Homo sapiens: one gene and its partner. Changing the gene in region 2 together with the main gene of any one other region gives a genetic interaction. Each region holds a gene or a part of one and is shown on either strand. Other genes may lie near its edges.

Region 1 (3,500 bases), on a different chromosome or scaffold from region 2:
GAAGTGAAAAAATGACAGGTACCAATATTACTGTGTTGGATAATTTCTTTTATAATATAGAAAAGAACTTTTTTTTTCTACAATAGTTCTACAGTCACAAAGAGGCTTGTGGAAAAGGGAGCTGCCCGATTGAATTTTTTATAAAGAAACAAACAAAACCAAACACAACCGCAAACCAACAGAAACTGATTTCACGGCCCTCATTTCAACAGCTTCTCCTTCTGCCTTGACCCACCCTCCTCCCAATATACCTCCCTCCCGACCCACCCCGTCCCCACCCCAACCAGGAAGCAATGACACAGCTGAAGATGTAGGGCGATGGCAGCACAGTGCACTTTCTACATAGATGACTGGGAACTGGAATAGTATATACAGAGAAACTGGGTCCTACACAGCCTTGCACATGCTCAGAGCTGAGAGCGGGAAGATGTGGAATTCTGCGTTTCTACCTAGCACGCTTGAGAAAGTCAATTAAAGTGTATTAAAAAAACCAACAAACCTGTGCATTTGAAAAAAGTTAATGCCTAATTAGTACTTTAAAAATTTATCTATATAAAATGTACAAATAAAGGAGAGAATTTAATGCTTACAGATATTTCTCTAAGCAGTACTTCCCCCTTTTGGATATTTGACTGCACATACCAAGTGGTATAATAGTTTCCATCTTCTAATGATGGAATATATATATATATATATGTGTGTGTGTGTGTGTGTGTGTGTGTGTATATATATATATATATATTTTTTTTTTTTTTTTTTTTTTTTTTACCTATCCCTGGAGCAAGTAATAGGAAGAGAATGGGCAAACTGGTTGCACGAGAGAAAAGAGAATGGAGTTGGGAGCAACACATGAACTTGCGTTATAACATTCTGCTGTCCAGATCTGCCCTACTGTGCTGGTGGTCGGTCTGTCCCTCTTCTCATTAGCCACTCACAGGAGAGGTGCTTGTGCACTCTGATTCACAGGGGATGAACTCAGGATCTCAAAAGACATACAAAAACTAGAGGTATGTATCACTTAAATAGCTACGAAACTCACACCGTGATCTCCCTTCTGACACACATCTGCGCCATCTCTTCCAACATAAAATAAACTGTTTCAATGGTTTGTCAGTTATTTTTCAAATCACTAAAATGTACAGTCATCCACCAACAATTTAAGAAAGAACCTAAGAGGCAAATCACTGGGGACTGCTATTTGAGTTTTATCAGTCAAAGGCTCAAGCATCAAGACCCTCAGTTAGCATTTCAAAGTACATACTAGAAACAAGAGGCTGGGTGGCGTGTGTGTGCGTTATGGCTGATTCACCAGGTGGTAAAAAAACAAGAGGTTAATCTCCTCTTTTTGATTGTTAATTGACCATCTCTATTCCTCCAAAGGCTGGATTTGGATTGCAAACAGCTTTTCTCTGAGATTCTGCTGTTAATTGAGACTTACAGTATTTTTGTGTCTCTGAGTGCTGAGTGGGAATATTTTAAAAAAGAAGAAAAAAATTATATTACACTTGATTCAAGAACAACAAAGATTTCAATGAAGTCCGTCTATAAAGAAACATTCTTGGGGAAGGGTTTCAAGAGGTGTGTGTGTGTGAGGAGTGGAGGGGATTTTAAAAGGAGAAGCATTTTCCTGCCTCACTTTATTAATAATAATAATAATAATATTAACAATAATAATAAGTTTAAGGAGCTTGGGTTGTTCTCCATGTCCCCATCCGAGTCTCCCCTAAGTGCCTCCTGCTGGAATGAAGTAGGAAATGAAAGGTTGGGTTTGGAGGAAAGGGTCTGGTTAACCCTTGAGATGTATATAACATTTAAAAATGACAACATTGGGAGCTGCAAACAGTGAGGGGAAACATACATTTTAAAATAAAGATAATTCACTTTTACACAAATTCTGTCCATGTGGTATGTAAAGAAAGTAAGGCTCTTTTTAATTATGAAAAGATTTTGTGCATGTTTCCCCATCCCCAAATCCATTTTTAGATGAGTTCTACTGTAAAATGTTCAAGATTGTGAAGAAAACCAAAACCCAGAACAAAATGAACCCAAAAAAAGAGAAGATCAGGTTTTCTAAAAAATAAAATAAACCAAAGAAAAATTCCTCTAAATCTACAGCAATATTTTAACTGGAAAAAGGTCCATTTTTCTCTGGTTTGTCAGTATAAAAGGTTCCTTTATTTATATATATTTAAGTTTTTGATTGCAAGTTCATCTTGCTCATCTTCTCATGTAAGGTCCGTTGAGTGACTGCTTGGGCACGCCAGCAGCGTTCATGTAGCTGTGATGGGAGGGGCCTGTGTACATCATGTTCCCATGAGGGTTAGGCTGCATAGGCTGCTGGGTATAGGCCTGGCTCCCCATCATTCCCATCTGCATCTGCATAGGATACTGTGCTGTCTGGTTCATGTAGGCAGGGTTACTATGGTAACTGCTGTTCATCATGGGCTGTGTCATTCGATAGCTGTTCATGGCATTCAAGGTGTTCATATTCATGGAATTGACATTATAGGCGGGAGTAGGCATCAGATTAACCCCCATGTTCATGCCACGCTGAACAGCCAGTGCGCGAGGGCCAGCCTGCATGGCAACTGCCGATGGGCTACGGCCATACAGCTGCTGCTGGTGAGCAGCCGCAGAGGGCAGTGGCGCAGACTTGGAGCGGATGGAAATGTGCCCCTTCACTGGCATTTGCCCTTGCAATCTCTGCGTGTGAGGAATGCCAATGTTGGTGGCAGACATGTTGCACTGAAGCAGAGGAGATGTGAGGTTCATGGTAGTGGATGCCAAGTTTGGGGGTGGCGTCATGGTGGCTTGTGCTTGAGGAGTCCCAGCTAAGGGATGAGATGGAGCCAGCTGAGCCAGTCCTGTATTGGACAGAGAAACACTGGTTGCATAGGAAGTCACAGCAGGAGAATGGCTATAAGGCATGGCATGAGGGTCCATAATGGTGTTGGTCAGCTGCTGCAGCTTGGCTAGGCTGAAGGTGGCTGATGGTTGAGAGTAGCTGCCGGCACCAAAATCCCCTGGAATCCTCTCATAGATACTTATGTTCCCAGTGCTTCCAGATTCTGGTATCTCCATGATCATAGGAGCTGGGGTGAAACTGTTATTCATACTACACTGTGACAGCGGGGGCTGCTGCTGGGGAGGGGGTGGGGGTGGAGGCTGCTGGGGCTGAGGCTGCGGCTGCTGTTGCGGCTGCTGCTGGGGTGGTGGAGGCTGTGGTGCTGGTTGTGGTTGTGGCGGCGGCGGCTGTGGCTGCTGTGGAGGCGGTGGTGGCGGCTGCTGCTGCTGGTTACTGGGAGGCCTCTCCACCACGCAGCTCTGAGGTGACTTGATGCTGCAGTTGGCAGCAGGCTGGACGCTGCTCTGCTGCATCATGCTGCAGCTGCTGCCCATGCTGGCCATCTGCTGAGTGACCACACAGCTGCTCTGGGTGAGGCTGCTGGAGGACGACAGCCCACCGTAGGAGCAGCTGCTCTGGGAAGAGCTGTTCCCAC
Region 2 (3,500 bases):
TTTTTTTTTTTTTTTTTTTTTTTTTTTTAAAAAAAGACAGTCTCACTCTATCATCCAGTCCGGAATGCAGTGGCATGATCTCAGCTCACTGCAATGTCTGCCTCCTGGATTCCAGTGATTCTCCTGCCTCAGCCTCTCAAGTAGCTGGGATTACAGGTGCAGGCCACCTGGCTAATTTTTGTATGTTTAGTAGAGACAGGGTTTTGCCATGTTGGCCAGGCCAGTCTCAAACTCTTGACCTCAAGTGATCACCCGCCTCATCCTCCCAAAGTGCTGGGATTACAGCCGTGAGCCTCTGCACCCAGCTTTTAACTCCCTCTTATCTGCATAACAGAAGCTTAGCTGCTTAAGCTCCTTTATTAGAAGAGCAAAAGTCTGAAATTATTCCTGAAACCTGCTCAATGGAAGTACCTACTCTATTGGTTGCTTCCCATATGGTTGTCACTGTACCTTCATACTGCCTCATTTGACCCTCATATTAGCCCTGTACAGTAGATGGGTACACTGGTTTGCCAAAGGAGACCTGGAATCCAAGGTGGAAGTAAGCAGCAAAGCCAGAAACTTCAATTCTGGTCTGTCTACCTTGATAGCCTGCACCCTCCCCTCTACCGTTTTCTTCCACTATTTTTGATTCCTTAATGATGAATCATCCTCTCCCTTCTAGTTGGATTTGTTTCTAATGGCTTCCATTACAAGGATAATAATGAAACTGGTGAAAACTTTCAGGCAAAAGGATTTTCTTTTTATATTTTTTCTTATTATTTTTTAATTATTAACCAAATTAACTCATTACAGTAAAAAGGACTGATTTTTAAGCCAGCTGTGATAGCTCTGTAATAGTCTGTAATCTCAGCACTTTGGGAGGCCAAGGCGGGCAGATCGCTTGAGTCCAGGAATTCGAGACTAGCCTGGGCAGCATGGTGAAACCCCAGCTCTACAAAAAATAGAAAAATCAGACGTGGGCACATGCCTGTAGTCTCAGCTACTTGGGAGGCTGAGGCACGAGAATCGCCTGAACCTGGGAGGCAGAAGTTGCAATGAGCTGAGATGATGCCACTGCACTCCAGCCTGGGTGACAGAGTGAGACCCTGTCTCAAAAACAAAAAACAGAATTGATTGATGTTAGTTGGCTTTAGAAGCAGCAAGTTTAGGGGGCTACAGAGCTAAACCAGGAAGCAAAAGATGTGCCTCATTCTGGCATTGTTTCTGATTTAGGAATAAACTGTTCAGTAAGCACTGTCCCTTTACTTCCATGGTTTTCTTCATTCCTCACCACAGCACAGTAAGGTGGATATTATAGTCTTCTTCTAGATGAAAAATTGAGGCTCATAGTGGTCTTGCTGCTGTGTCATAGCAATAGAATGAGAGAGCCTTGCTTCCCTGAGTCCAAATCCCATACTTTTGGCATTGTTATGAGGTCTGGTCACCTGATGCTTCCATGCTATTTTCCCATTTCTTATCTGGGGATAATGAGTCATATTAAGTAATTTTTTTTTTTGAGACGGAGTTTCGTTCTGTCACCCAGGCTGGAGTGCAGTGGTGCGATCTTGGCTCACTGCAAGCTCTGCCTCCCGGGTTCATGCCATTCTTCTGCTTCAGTCTCCCGAGTAGCTGGGACTACAGGTGCCCACCACCACGCCCAGCTAATTTTTTGTATTTTTAGTAGAATGAGGTTTCACCGTGTTAGCCAGGATGATCTCGATCTCCTGACCTCGTGATCCACTCGCCTCAGCCTCCCAAAGTGCTGGGATTACAGGCGTGAGCCATTGCACCCAGCCATTTTTTTTTTTTTTAAGACGACGTCTCACTCTGTCACCTATGCTGGAGTGCAGTGGCGTGATCTAGGCTCATTGCAACCTCTGCCTCCCAGGTTCAAGCGATTTTCCTGCCTCAGCCTCCCAAGTAGCTGGGATTACAGGTGCCCACCACCTCGCCTGGCTAATTTTTGTATTTTTAGTAGAGATGAGGTTTTGCCCTGTTGGCTAGGTTGGTCTTGAACTCCTGACCTCAGGTGATCCACTCACCTCAGCCTCCCAAAGTGCTGGGATTACAGGCAGGAGCCACTGCGCCCAGCCAAGTAACTTTTAACAGTGTGGTATAACCTTTAAATGACAAGGTGATGCTTTTGACTTGTCCTCAACTTTGATTTGTACTGATTTGTCCCTATAGTTCTGGGTGGGGTGGGTCAAAACAAAGTCTCGAGCTGTACCAGGATCAAGCAGCACAGCTCAGCCATGATCCTTTTACCACTTTTTTCTTCTGTCCTTGAGACTCTAATTAAAGCACTGGATTTTTAAAAATCACCCTTGTAAATATGCACACATTTGTCTATAGTTGAGGAAATTGTGCCGTTGAAGTCCATTCTTGGACATGGAGTTAAGAAACCCTGGTTTGAGAAAAAGCCCCAGTGAGACAGCAGGAATCCTTTTACCATACAACCCTCAACTAGTTTAGTGTGCTCAAGCTCAAATAACCAATCCCATCAAGTGAAAAGAATGGCAGCAGGGAGAAGGCCTGGCTCACTGAGGCTCTCAGCATTAGTTTCCTCTACCTCTTGTGTCTCACAGGTGCACATATGTACAGCATATCAAAGTGTTGAATGTCATGAGAATAAAATATGAAAACTACTTTGCTGAATGATAGTATGTGATGTGTGCTAGGACTTCTAGAAGCCACCCTTTGCTTTGCTGTTCATTGGGATCATGGAATCGGACCTCAGCTGGTTTTGCCTCAGCACTTTCTTTCACAAAATTATGTGTGACTGCCTCCTCCAGACTGTTTCCTGCTGATAGGGGCAGTTTAATAGCCTTCTTCCTGTGTGGTATCTGCAACAAAATCCCAATGAATGTCACCAAGAAGGAAACAAAGGATTGCCCAGCGATGAGAAATGTCCCTGGTGCCAAAACATCAGTTTGCCCCTAACCTCTTGTGCAATACCTTTAAGTCCAGGTCATGTTGTTACCATTTGGGGGTTTGCGGATTTGTTTACTTGTGCCCAAGAATGGAGAAAATAACCTGTACTATTGTACAACTCTGGCTCCATGGCTCCTCACAAATGTTCCATGTGAGATATAAACATCTTTATCCTCGACAAGTCATGTTCATTCCAAGAAACCAGTCTTTGTTCTTAATTGGACATTTGTTTCTGCAAACAGCTTACCATACATTCAATTCCAAAGTTATCAGAAACCTACACTCTTATCTCACAAATTTAGAGGTGTGGTAGATCATCTCCAAAGATGGCCACCAACAGTTGCTCTCATCCTCTGTGCACGTGCTATTTCCAATAAGGTCTATTTTTTTCTACAGTGAGGGCTGAACTTGTGACTTGTTTTGACTAATAGGATATGGAAGTGATATTTTGGCAGCTTCCACTTTTGCTCTTGAAAATAAGCTGACACGTTTCCAAACGAGAAGCTTGGGCTAAATTACTGAATGGTGAGAGACGATGCATAGGAGAACCAAGGTGCTCTAGTCACAGCACTAAAAGCCCAGACTTG

Evidence for each region. A genetic interaction does not mean that the proteins touch.
Region 1: changes in KAT7 (region 2) and KAT6A together harm fitness more than expected from each alone (negative genetic interaction), as found in Homo sapiens cells (one large-scale study listed by BioGRID).

What each region holds. Positions count from the first base shown.
Region 1 is NC_000008.11:41,929,988-41,933,487, forward strand, and holds part of KAT6A (histone acetyltransferase KAT6A), read right to left. Parts: coding exon 2,218-3,500; 3' UTR 1-2,217. UniProt on the Homo sapiens protein: Histone acetyltransferase that acetylates lysine residues in histone H3 and histone H4 (in vitro). Component of the MOZ/MORF complex which has a histone H3 acetyltransferase activity. May act as a transcriptional coactivator for RUNX1 and RUNX2.
Region 2 is NC_000017.11:49,830,181-49,833,680, forward strand, and holds part of KAT7 (histone acetyltransferase KAT7), read left to right. Parts: 3' UTR 1-3,500. UniProt on the Homo sapiens protein: Catalytic subunit of histone acetyltransferase HBO1 complexes, which specifically mediate acetylation of histone H3 at 'Lys-14' (H3K14ac), thereby regulating various processes, such as gene transcription, protein ubiquitination, immune regulation, stem cell pluripotent and self-renewal maintenance and embryonic development.